Regions from separate parts of the Homo sapiens genome. Here region 2 is linked to region 1. The links come from fine-mapping of genetic effects on gene expression. Tissue or cell type: sun-exposed skin. Region 1 holds a variant in brackets; the other region holds the start of a gene. All regions are shown on one strand. Distances are between the middles of the regions.

The links.
Region 2: it holds the start of KCNK1, and the variant in region 1 is fine-mapped to the expression of KCNK1 in sun-exposed skin (GTEx, PIP above 0.99). The same link has a PIP of 0.9 or more in unexposed skin.

What each region holds. Positions count from the first base shown.
Region 1 is chr1:233,652,800-233,658,177 of GRCh38, reverse strand. All of the region lies in intron 1 of KCNK1 (potassium two pore domain channel subfamily K member 1), which reads right to left. Among named protein-coding and RNA genes, the nearest start is that of MIR4427, 31 kb to the right of the region's middle. The variant C/T (reference allele first, on the strand shown) is at 2,455.
Region 2 is chr1:233,610,954-233,616,331 of GRCh38, reverse strand. KCNK1 (potassium two pore domain channel subfamily K member 1) reads right to left here and starts at 2,226. Exons shown (of 3, transcript NM_002245.4): 1 at 1,806-2,226. The coding sequence starts at 2,160. RefSeq lists enhancers at 1,200-1,259, 2,448-3,100 and silencers at 1,730-1,789, 2,130-2,199, 2,560-2,659.

The DNA.
Region 1 (5,378 bases):
TTAACTTTGAAATGTGTTGAACCTTTCTTAGCTTGAGAATTTAAATTATGATTATTTGTCCTTATTTTTTCATATTTTTAGAACTGTTTTTCCATCCATTTTAAAAATACGAATCCCTGCCATGTCTTTTCACACCACCCTCTGCATACTCTCACAAATGAAGATCATCTCATCAGGCCTTGCTTCCTAAAACTGAAATTTCAAAAGAAACACGTATGTTACATACAATTATTCAAATTCTTTATACTCCTTTTCTCCATTCTCTCTAAGCTGGTGAGTACCTGGTTGACAGTCCAGCTTTTGATCAGTCACCTTCTGCTGTAGGAGGCTAAGTTTGTCAAAGTGATAAAAAAAAAAATTAACACTTTTAAGTTATAACTTAGTAAAATTTGCAGTAAGATATTAAATGCTATAGTAGGACAGCATAGGTAACAGACCAGGCTGTCTTTCTCTCTCTCTCTCTTTCTTTCTTTATTTCTCTTTCTTTCTTTTCTTTCTCTTTCTTTCTTTTCTTTCGTCTTTCCTTTTTCTTTTTTCTTTCTTTTCTTTTCTTTCTTTTTCTCTCTTTCTTTCTTTCTTATTTCTTTGGCTAATCATCATAATTACACAGTTCCTTATGAAAACAAATTCTGTAATAATCTCTTTATCATCTCAGATCCCTGCAGACAATATGGCTTGGCTTGTTCAACGGTACCATCTACTGCACACTGTGATTTGATGTCTTGCTAGGTTACTGCGGGCAGATCATGGTAGCACAGGAACATGACCCACTACTGGATATGGGTAATAACCACATATCCAGCTTTTACCACATATCCAATTTTAATACAGCTTTCCCCCAATTCCAATCAGTCACATTTCGAAAACATAAGAATCCTACCTAAGGCTTTTCCATCCCAAAATTTACTGACACTGCCTTGGCTGCGGGGGTTGTGGATGAAGGGGGACAAAAAGCGATGAGAAAGCAGCTCTCGTGAAAAGGTGGATTTGTCCCCCTCTCACCAAGCTAAATTAAACTCATCCTCACTCATCCTCACTGCCCATCCTCCCAGACACAAACCAAATGGGCTTCTTACTCAGTACTGGCCATCTCTCGGGCAAGATTTCCCTTTAATATTTTCTTACTAAATTACATGAACAGATTAATTAGAAAAGACTTAAAAAACAACAAGCTATCTAATTCTCTGACAGAGTATATTTACAATGTGTTATGACTAGGACCAAAAAAAGTAAATAAAAGAGACTTAAAACGAAGCTTTGGGCTGGGCATGGTGACTCACACCTGTAATCCCAGCACTTTGGGAGACTGAGGTGAGAGGATTGCTTGAGGCCAGGAGCTCAAGATCACCCTAGTCAACATAGTGAGCTCTGTCTATACAAAAACTAAATAAATTAGCTGGGCATGGTGGCATGTGCCAGTAGTCCCAGCTATTCGGGAGGCTGAGGTGGGAGGATCAATTGAGGCTGGGAGGTTGAGGCTGCAGTGAGCCATGATCATGCACCACTGCACTCCAGCCTAGACGACGAGAGACTCTGTCCCAAATTAAATAAATAAATAATAAAGAAATAAATAATTGAAGCTTTGTCACCCTTGTGTGAAAGCTGATCACATGAAATGAGTCATTCTTGTCATACCCAACAAAGAATCAATAAGCCAAGGGGAAAAAGCACTCAGGGTGAAGAACATTGCTCCAAAAAACATAATTTTCTGCAGGCCTGGCAGCTGACACTGCCTGCAGTAACCTGAAACCAGTTTTGTCTAACGACTACTGAGACGACCTGCTGCAACTCTCAGACTGGGTTTACGCACCACCCTCACTTATCAGTTGAAGCCTGCCAGCTCCTCAAAACCTTACTGGTGCCAATGAAACTTCTCAAAGAGCAATATGCAACATTTCTCCTTTTTATAAAACCTCTAACCTTCTCTTTGTTCTTCAGAGAGAGCATTTTCAGTTCACACCGGAGACTCTCTCTTCCAGGTTTGTAAACCAGTATTGCCAGTGAAACTCTCTTTTCTGTTATCTAGCCATCCTGATGGTCCTTTGGATGACACTTGTTTAATCCTGTAACCCATTTGAATGCAGAGGTGTCAACATTACAATTACTGATGGTCTCACAAAACTGTCGTTTCCTTCAGCATCCTTTCCTAGGGACTTGAAATCCACAAAAGTAGAATGCTTTACGATTAACTGAAAATGATGAGAAGCAACCACCAAGCATAAGTTAAAGAGCTGTCCAGTATGCCCTTGGCATTGGAGCCGTTTTTTTTTTTTCCCACTTTACCTCAGTTGCTCCTCATCCAAGGGTATCTTAGTCTGTTCAAGCTGCTACAAAAGAATACCACAGGCTTATAAACAACAGAAATGTATTTCTCACAGTTTTAGTGGCTGGGAAGTCTCTGATCAAGGCACCAGCAGATTCAGTGTCTGGTGAGGGCTGCTTCCTCATAGACTT[C/T]TCACTCTAATCTCACAAGGCAGAAGGAGGAAGGAGTCCCTCTTATGTCTCTTTTATAAAGGCACGAGTCTCATTCACGAGGCCTCCACCCTCATAACCTAATCACCTCCCAAAGGCTCTACCTCCTGATACCATCACCTTGAGAGGGTGGGGGTTAGGATTTCAACATATAAATTTGGGAGAGACACAAACACTCAGACCATAACATTCTACCCCTGGCATCCCAAAATTTCATGTCCTTCTCACACGCAAAATGCATTCAGTCCATTCCAATGGTTCCAAAAATCTTAACTCATTCCAGTATCTACTTGAAGGTCTGTAGTCCAAAGTCTCATTTAAACAGCACCTACATCATATATGGGTGAGACGCAAGGTATGATTCATTCTGAAGCAATTTCCCCTCCAGCTGTGAGCCTGTGAAATTAAACAAGTCAAGGGGCTTCCAAAATACAATGGTGGGACAGGCATAGAATAGACATTTCCATTTCAAAAGAAAGAAAAGAATAGAAAGAAAGAAAAGAAGAAAGGATAGGTCCCTAGCAAAGTCCAAAATTTTGTCTGGAGAATAATCTTCTTTGGCTCAATGCTCTGTCCCCCAGGCCCACTAGGGCTGTGGTCCTGCTTTCCCAACCCACGGGCGTGGTGGCCCTCCCCAAAGGTTGCTCTGTGCCCTTGTGGCTCCAAGAGCTAGAATCGTGTCTATGACTCTACAGGTCTGGGGCTGCTGGGGTGGTCCTACCACTCGGCTATCCTGGATGTTGCTCTAGTAAGGGCTCTCTGTGGAGGTCCCATGCTTGCCTGCTCAAGCTTTTGCACATTGGAGCTGTGATGGAGGTGGCAGCCCCAATTACTTCTGAATCACCTTGAGCAACAGGTTCCACTTGGTTGACTAATCTCCTTATCAGATGGTCATTTGGCCGCACCCTTGGTGTTCTTTCCCAATGTGCCTTCTCATTTATTTATTTATTCTTTTTTAAGAGATGGACTCTCACTATGTTACTCAGACAAGTCTCAAACTCCTGGGTTTAAGGGATCCTCCTGCCTCCACTTCTCTAACAGTTAGGACTACAGGCATGAACCACTGTACCCGTTATCTCATTCTTCATAATATGGCTAGGGTGAGAATTTTCCAAATCTTTAAGTGCTGCTTCTCTTTGATTAACAATTCTGTCTTTAAATCTTTTCTCTCTTTTCACATTTTAATGTAGGCTGTCAAGAGAAGCCAAGCCACAACTTTCACACTTTGCCTAGAAATTTCCTTATCCAAATATGTAATTTCAGTGTTCACCGCTCTACCTTCTGCAAAACACTAGAATACAGGCACAATTCAGCCAAGTTCTCTGACGCTTTTTAAAAAAATTTGTTTTCTTTTACTTTAAGTTCTGGGATATATGTGCTGAACGTGCAGGTTTGTTACACAGGTATACATGTGGTTTACTGCATCTATCAACCTGTCATCTAAGTTTTAAGCCCTGCATGCATTAGGTATTTGTCCTGATGCTCTCCCTTCCCTTTCCCCCCCACCCCGATGGCTTTTTCTCCATTGTCCAATAACATGGTCCTCATTTCCCTCTGAGACCTTATCAGACTGGCCTTTATTACCCATATTTCTGCCAACGTTCTGTTCATGATCACTTAGGTATTTTCTAGGAGGATTAAGGCTTTCTTTATAGCTCTCCTCTTTTCTTTCTGAGCCTTCACCAGAATCACCTTTAAAGGTCAATTCACAGCAATGTAGGCTTTTTCTAGTGTGCACCTCCGAACTCTTTCCAGTTTCTACCCATTACCCATTTCCAAAGCCACTTCCACATTCGTTAGAAGCACTCCCACTTCTTGGTATCAATCTTTATATTTGTCAGGACTCTCTGAAGAAACAGAAGCAATAGGATATATATAGATATATAAGAAGAGATTTATTATGGGAATTGGCTTATCCAATTACGGAAGCCAGCAAGTCCCTTGGCATGCCGTCTGCAAGCAGAAGAACCAGGAAAGCCGGTGGTACCATTCTGCCCAAGTTTGAAGGCCTGAGAACCATGGAGGCCAATGACATAACTCCCAGTCCAAGGTCAGGAGAAGAGAGAAGTCTCAACTCAACAAAAGACAAATAGCCCTTTCTCTCCCTTTTTGTTCTATTCAGGCCCTTCATGAATTAGATAACGCCTACCCACCTTGGTGAGGATGGATCTTCTCTACTCAGTCTACTGATTCAAATGCTAATCTCTTCCAGAAACACCCTCACAGATGCACCCAGATGTAATGTTTTACCAGCTACCTGGGCATCCTCTAGCCCAGTCAAATTGACACAACAATTAACCATCAGTCAGGGAAGAGGTTTCAAAATGTAAGTTTTATTATTATTCAGGTATAGTGAGGCCAACAGACCAGGGGATATCTGTAATTGAAAAGACAGCTTGTTCAGGTTTCAAAAGTGGGGCATGCCATGCCATGCTGTGGGGGCACCTAGGGAAACATCAGTTGGTCAGGACACAAAGGAATCAAGGGGGGAACTTTACTGTGGTTTCTGCAGGAATAAATGGGTGAAGCAGCATAAGCAGGTTTAGGGTTAGCTAGTTTGAATCATTTCAGCAAGCTTTGGAATATAGGAGTTGTCCCAGTTGTCTGGTACCAGGCTCTGGGGTGACTGAGGCAGAGAATTAGTGGCTCAGAAGGTGAAAGCCTGATAAAGAAGGTGGCTGGGGGATGGGGCTCCAGAGTGTTCAGTTTGCATAGGAAAGGCATGCTCACAGGTGAGTCCTTTACTGTCCTTAGGAATTGGCCAGCCCTGGGAAGGGCAGTTCCTTCAGTGTCAGCAAAACCCAAGATGTCAAAGCATCAGAATAAAAAGATAATACAGAAGGAGTGTGTGACCAGAGCCAAGCTCTGCAAAGGCATGTCCACCAGCATGGCCTAGAAACAGTCCC
Region 2 (5,378 bases), 42 kb after region 1:
AATCCCACCCAGATAAAAGCAAACCTTTTTCCTCAAAACTGTTCTTATTCTTGTTCTATCCTCACAATATCATTAGTAAGAAAACACCACACGCTATAAGCATCCTTCGAAATGTTTACCCAACATTGTGACCCAGTTGTAAACTTTCTGTAGCCCCATGGAAACACTTACTTCTGGGAAGAATGAATGACTCTCAATATAGCACAAATATACTCCAAAGGAAAGGCATGGTGACTCCTAAATGATCTGAGGAACAGAGGACTAGGTAAAGACAATGGAGGCAGAGTTATGGAAAGAAAAATTAAATTGTATTGGCAAGGGAACAGGCATTCTTTGGAAAGTGAGATAACAGGTCTGTCTTGTCTAGCGCTACATTTAACAGTTTTTTAGATCTCACAATACAAGCTAGAATTCCACTTCTGTTTATTTCAGGGTAGATTTACATCAGTTTAGTAATTCACCCCAGACCTCTGAATAATTGTTTCATGTGATCTACATGAATAGTGTATTATTACTCATTACCAAGTAATTACCAAGATAGTCAACAAGATATAGCCCAAAGGGAATTATACACAATAATTTGGGTGGTGGAGGGGGGTGGGGAGGAAGGAAGAGTTGGGAGTCACACAAAGGGATGTGATTCACCTGTAAAGGTTGAGGGTGGGGGGTTACAAAGTGGTCCTGGCAGAGAAATCACAAGGCCCAGGTTCCAGGACGACACTGGTAACTAGGAAGTGTGTGACCTTGTGCATGACGAGATGGATTATTTCAAAGATTGGATCTCATAGATCAAAAGAAGGGACTGTGCTGAACGCTCTTTCAGATTCCTCCCACTGTCCAAATACCAATTGATATCTCCACTCTGGGTATGTGCCTTACTAGGTCCGGCTGGGGAAATTCGGCCTTCATTCATCTGATCTGGCACAGTGACCGAGCCCTGGGGCATGCGCCCGGCCTCATCTTTCACCTGAGGAGGCTCCTCCATGGCCGGGCGCCCCGCGGGTGAGTCGTACGGGGACGTGGCGCTTCGAAGTTTATGGGGAGCCTCGCACACCTCAAGTTGAAGGAACTGCTGAATCAGGGTGCCCCAATTAAGTCAGATCTTAGGCAATCCTATGGTTCCTTTACTCTCCCTCACCCTTCCTCCTACTCTGAAAAGAAACCGGATCGGCCTGTCCGCCCAGAGGTCACCTGGGAAGAGCAGAGTGATGTCACTCGGCTACCCCCAAAACTGCCTCCAAGGTACAAAAGAGCTGGAATATCTGTGCATGGTCCAAAGGGACGGCACACTCCGGAAGGTGACCCTTTAGAAGGTATTATTACCAGACTGCAGCCTCGGCCTCTGGGATGGGTGCGGGAGGAAGGTGGTGAGTTTCCATCATCCCGCTGCCTTGCCGCACGGCGGCCAGGTGCTGCTACACATTCAAACCCGACAGTTTGGCTTAGTGGGTTGCGAAAAAAGAACTCAAGGGGAGGAAGCACCTGCAGCCACCCAGGCCGAAGTTAGGGACCACTTCCCCAGAGTTACGGACGGCAACAACCAAGTCACGTCTGGAGTCACCTCTCTGGCTTCCGGCTCCGCAGGGCTTGCCCTCCCGAGTCACCCAGGCAGAGGCCGGGGACGCCAGTAAGGGGAAGGTCGGAGGGTCGGGAGGACAGTGAGGGGAGGCGGGCTGGAGGAGCCGGGATGGCGAAAGGTGGGGGGTGGGGTGGGAGGGTTAGAGGGGCCCGGGGCGCCGGGGCCGGGGTGTGTGGGTTGTGGGCGAGGTGGCCGGGGCGGCCAGGGGGCGCGCAGGATACCCTACCTGTGGTGGAGAGCACGGTGCTGGCGAAGAAGAGCGCGGAGGTGAAGTCCCAGTTCCAGTTGCCCGAGGCGTTGCTGAGCACCGACACGCCGTAGTTGCTGGCCTCCAGCACCCGGCCCAGGAACTGCTCCAGCTGCTGCTCAGACAGGCACTCGTGCTCCTCCAAGAAGCGTCGCTTCAGCTTGCGCAGCTCCTGGCGCAGCAGGTCCTCATAGGGCAGCTCCACCGAGGAGAAGACCACTGCGCCGAAGACCAGGTAGAGCAAGTAGCCCAGCACCAGGAAGCCGAAGCACCAGGCCGAGCGGTGCCGCTCCACCAGGCGCACGCACGAGCTGCCGGCCAGGGACTGCAGCATCTTCTCCACCGCCGCCGCCAAGGCCAACGCCGCAGACCGGCCGGAGCGCGGCCCGCCGCCTCTTCTGGCCCCGCCGCCCCCGCCCCCGCCCGGGCCTGGCTCCCGCCCGCCGCCCGCTCCCCCGCGCGCCCGCCCGCCCCGCTCCTCCGGGCAGCGCCGTCTTCCTGCGATTGGCTCTCTCGGGCGATGTTTTTCTTCCTTCTTTTCCTGTTTCCTTGCAATATAAAAAGCCCAGATGATGTGGCGCTGACGTGGTTGCCGGCTCAGGTAACCCGAGAGTCAGCGGAGACCGCGCGCAAACTTGGCCAGAGCGCCTGGGCTGGGCTGCCGGGGCCCGGGACGCACCGCCTTCTGCGCACTCCAGAGGTGGGGCGGGCGCTCGGTGGCGCCCAGACCCCGACCCGACAGCCACCAGCTCCTCCCGCTCCCTCCCTTCCTGGGTCCAGTAGCCAAACTCTAGCTGACCGCGCGCGGCGTGTGCGTGTGTGTGTGTGTGTGTTCGCGCGCGTGTAGTGTGGGCCGCTTCTGGTCAATGCGCTGGCCGTCCAAGCCCCCTGTCCAAGCTACTCTTGTTTCCCACTTATTTTCTCCCAATCAAAGCCAGTATTACAAAACAGCAAGCGCTGAAGTACTTTCCTTCTTTGTCTTATTGGTCGAAGGATTGAGCAATCTGGTGCCAGTAATGACGGTGAAAATACCAGAACATCAGAGTTGGAAGGCTCCTTGAATCAGTCTCCTCTCTCCCACCCATCCCCCTCACAAAAAGGACTTGAGGGAAAAGGAGAGTCTCAGAGAAGTCCTATTTCTGAGTTCGAATTTTCTAAAACATGACCTTAGGTTTTTTGGTGAAAAAACATCCCAAATGTGTCAACTGCCAGAAGAAACTGAGCTTTCCCAACTGTCACTTCTTTTTAAAGTGACAAAAATGTGGGCGAGGGTCAGCGAGCCGCCTGCTTGTGGATGAAAATAAAAATTGGTACACCCTTTCTGGAAAGGCAATTTAGCGACACGTCTCAAGAACCTTGAAAGGGTTTATTTGTTCTGATTCAGTGATATGTCCTAAGAAAAAACAATCAGAGAGGCACTTACTTACAAAGACTGGTCATAGACGGTATCTATATATACATACATGTAGTTGTATAATATAGTGCATACACATGTGGGACACACACACACACACACACACACACACGGTATAGATGAAATAATGAAGACTCAGAACAATCTAAATATTCCAAAATAGAGAATGGTTAAATAAGTTATGGCATCTCTACAGCATGGACACCATATAGACATTAAACACATTAAAGTTGTGTCTAAAGACTATTGAAGCAAAACTGTGTAGAATCTCAAATATGTAAAATATTTGTATTTTGTTACAAAATAAAATGACATCTGCATTATTAATCAACTGCATAGGAATAAAACTATCTCCTTGCAGTTGTCTTTGGGTAATAGTAGAGTATATAGATGACTTTCCTTTCTTGTACCTTTTAATATTTTTCAAATTTTCTACAGTGGATATATATTATTTTTGTAATCAGGAAAAACATTTAAAATACACAAAACTGAATTGTACAATTAATCATTCCAACACCTAGCTGAACATTTGCCTACTTTACTGAAGTTCTCTAAACAAGTCATATTTTGTATTTTCATAGAAACTTGTGCAAATGTCTAACATATATATCAGTGATTTTTCACTTTTAGTCAATAGCCTTACCTCCTACGTTACTCAAAAGATTGAAGCCAGCCCTCCACTTTACTTCTCTGTACTTCAAAATTTACTCATCGGTAATCCATTTCTTCCCTTTGCTCTTACCCCTAAGGAAAAAATGTACCTCCTTATTTTCAAGGTGAAAGGAAGCACTTACCACTCTCAGTCCTTCCGCCTCTGGGAACCCTTCCCCATCAGCAAGTGCCCTACTCTTTTAGAACTTGAATTCCTCCTTCTCCCTCAAGTCTCCATCCTACAATGTCCTTCCCTGTCCTGCTCTGTAACCCTTGCTTGCCCTATCCTATCCTTGATCTTTGCCTATTTGCCCTGTTCAGAGACCTCTTCATTCATGAGGCTACCCCCGGCCGTAGCAGACCCTCAGAATTCTCCTCCTGCCTGTCATGATCATTTTTCTCCCTATGTCTCTGCTCACCTGATTCCTTCTGCTTGGACAGTTCCTCCTCCATCTCCATCTGTAACACAGTTTATATCCTTCAGGACCTGGCTCACTCATGAAACCTGTGATTCCCCAACAGGATGTGAGTTCCTCTTCCCAAGACATACAACCCTTTGAATGCCAGATTGTGTGGGGTACTTGTGATGAACTGCAGGTGCAGGTGTGGTTATATCATCACACTCAAATATACATACATGTATTGTGGGAAAAAGAGTTTCTGGAGTGCCAGTTGAGTTGTTCTCCCCTGTGTGAGACACCCATGGGGAGCCATGGGTGACCTCTGAGGAGAAAAGTCTCCTTATTGCCTTCATGTCTTTATGCCCTGAGAGCATAACTGCTCGGGGGCATTCCACAGGCTGCTCAGGGAGATAACACGCCCTGGAAGCAGTGGAGTATAATCAAACATCTTGGCTCCTCCTGAAACCCGCTCCCACCCCTTTCAGTCCCAATAAGTTAAAGATCTTAAGTAGTTTAGACACACGCAATCTTAAGTAGTTTAGACACACGCCTTTGCTCAAGGAAATTCACAGAGACCACCACTGCTGTACATCTTATTGAATGACTCACAAGTTCTCCTTCACTGATTAATCCTTTTCCTCATCCCTTCCTCCCCCTCCCATCTGCCCTAAGAACAAAGAGCTTGTAAAACAATAAATTAGTTGGAGCCCAAGAGCTCTGGGCCATGAGCAAGCCTCCTACACAACGGTCCCCTGGACCCACCTTTTAAATGCTTATTCTGCCTCTTTCTAACTCCTGTGTCTCCGCTGGACTCGGGGTACCCGCCGGTTGGTGTGGGGCTGGTTCCCCCAACATGTATATGGCAGCTTTGAAATATGGTTGCAAATTCTTTGACAGTCCCTCACCAAAGGGTAGGGTTTCTGTCCCCTATCCTTGAAACTTGTGACTACTTCAACTGACAGAGTACATAAGAGATGATACTAGGTAATTTCCAAGGTTAGATGATAAAAGACCAGCAGCCTCCAACTTTGTTCACTGGAACAATCCCCTCTTGGAGCCCTGAGCCATCACATAAGATGTCTGATT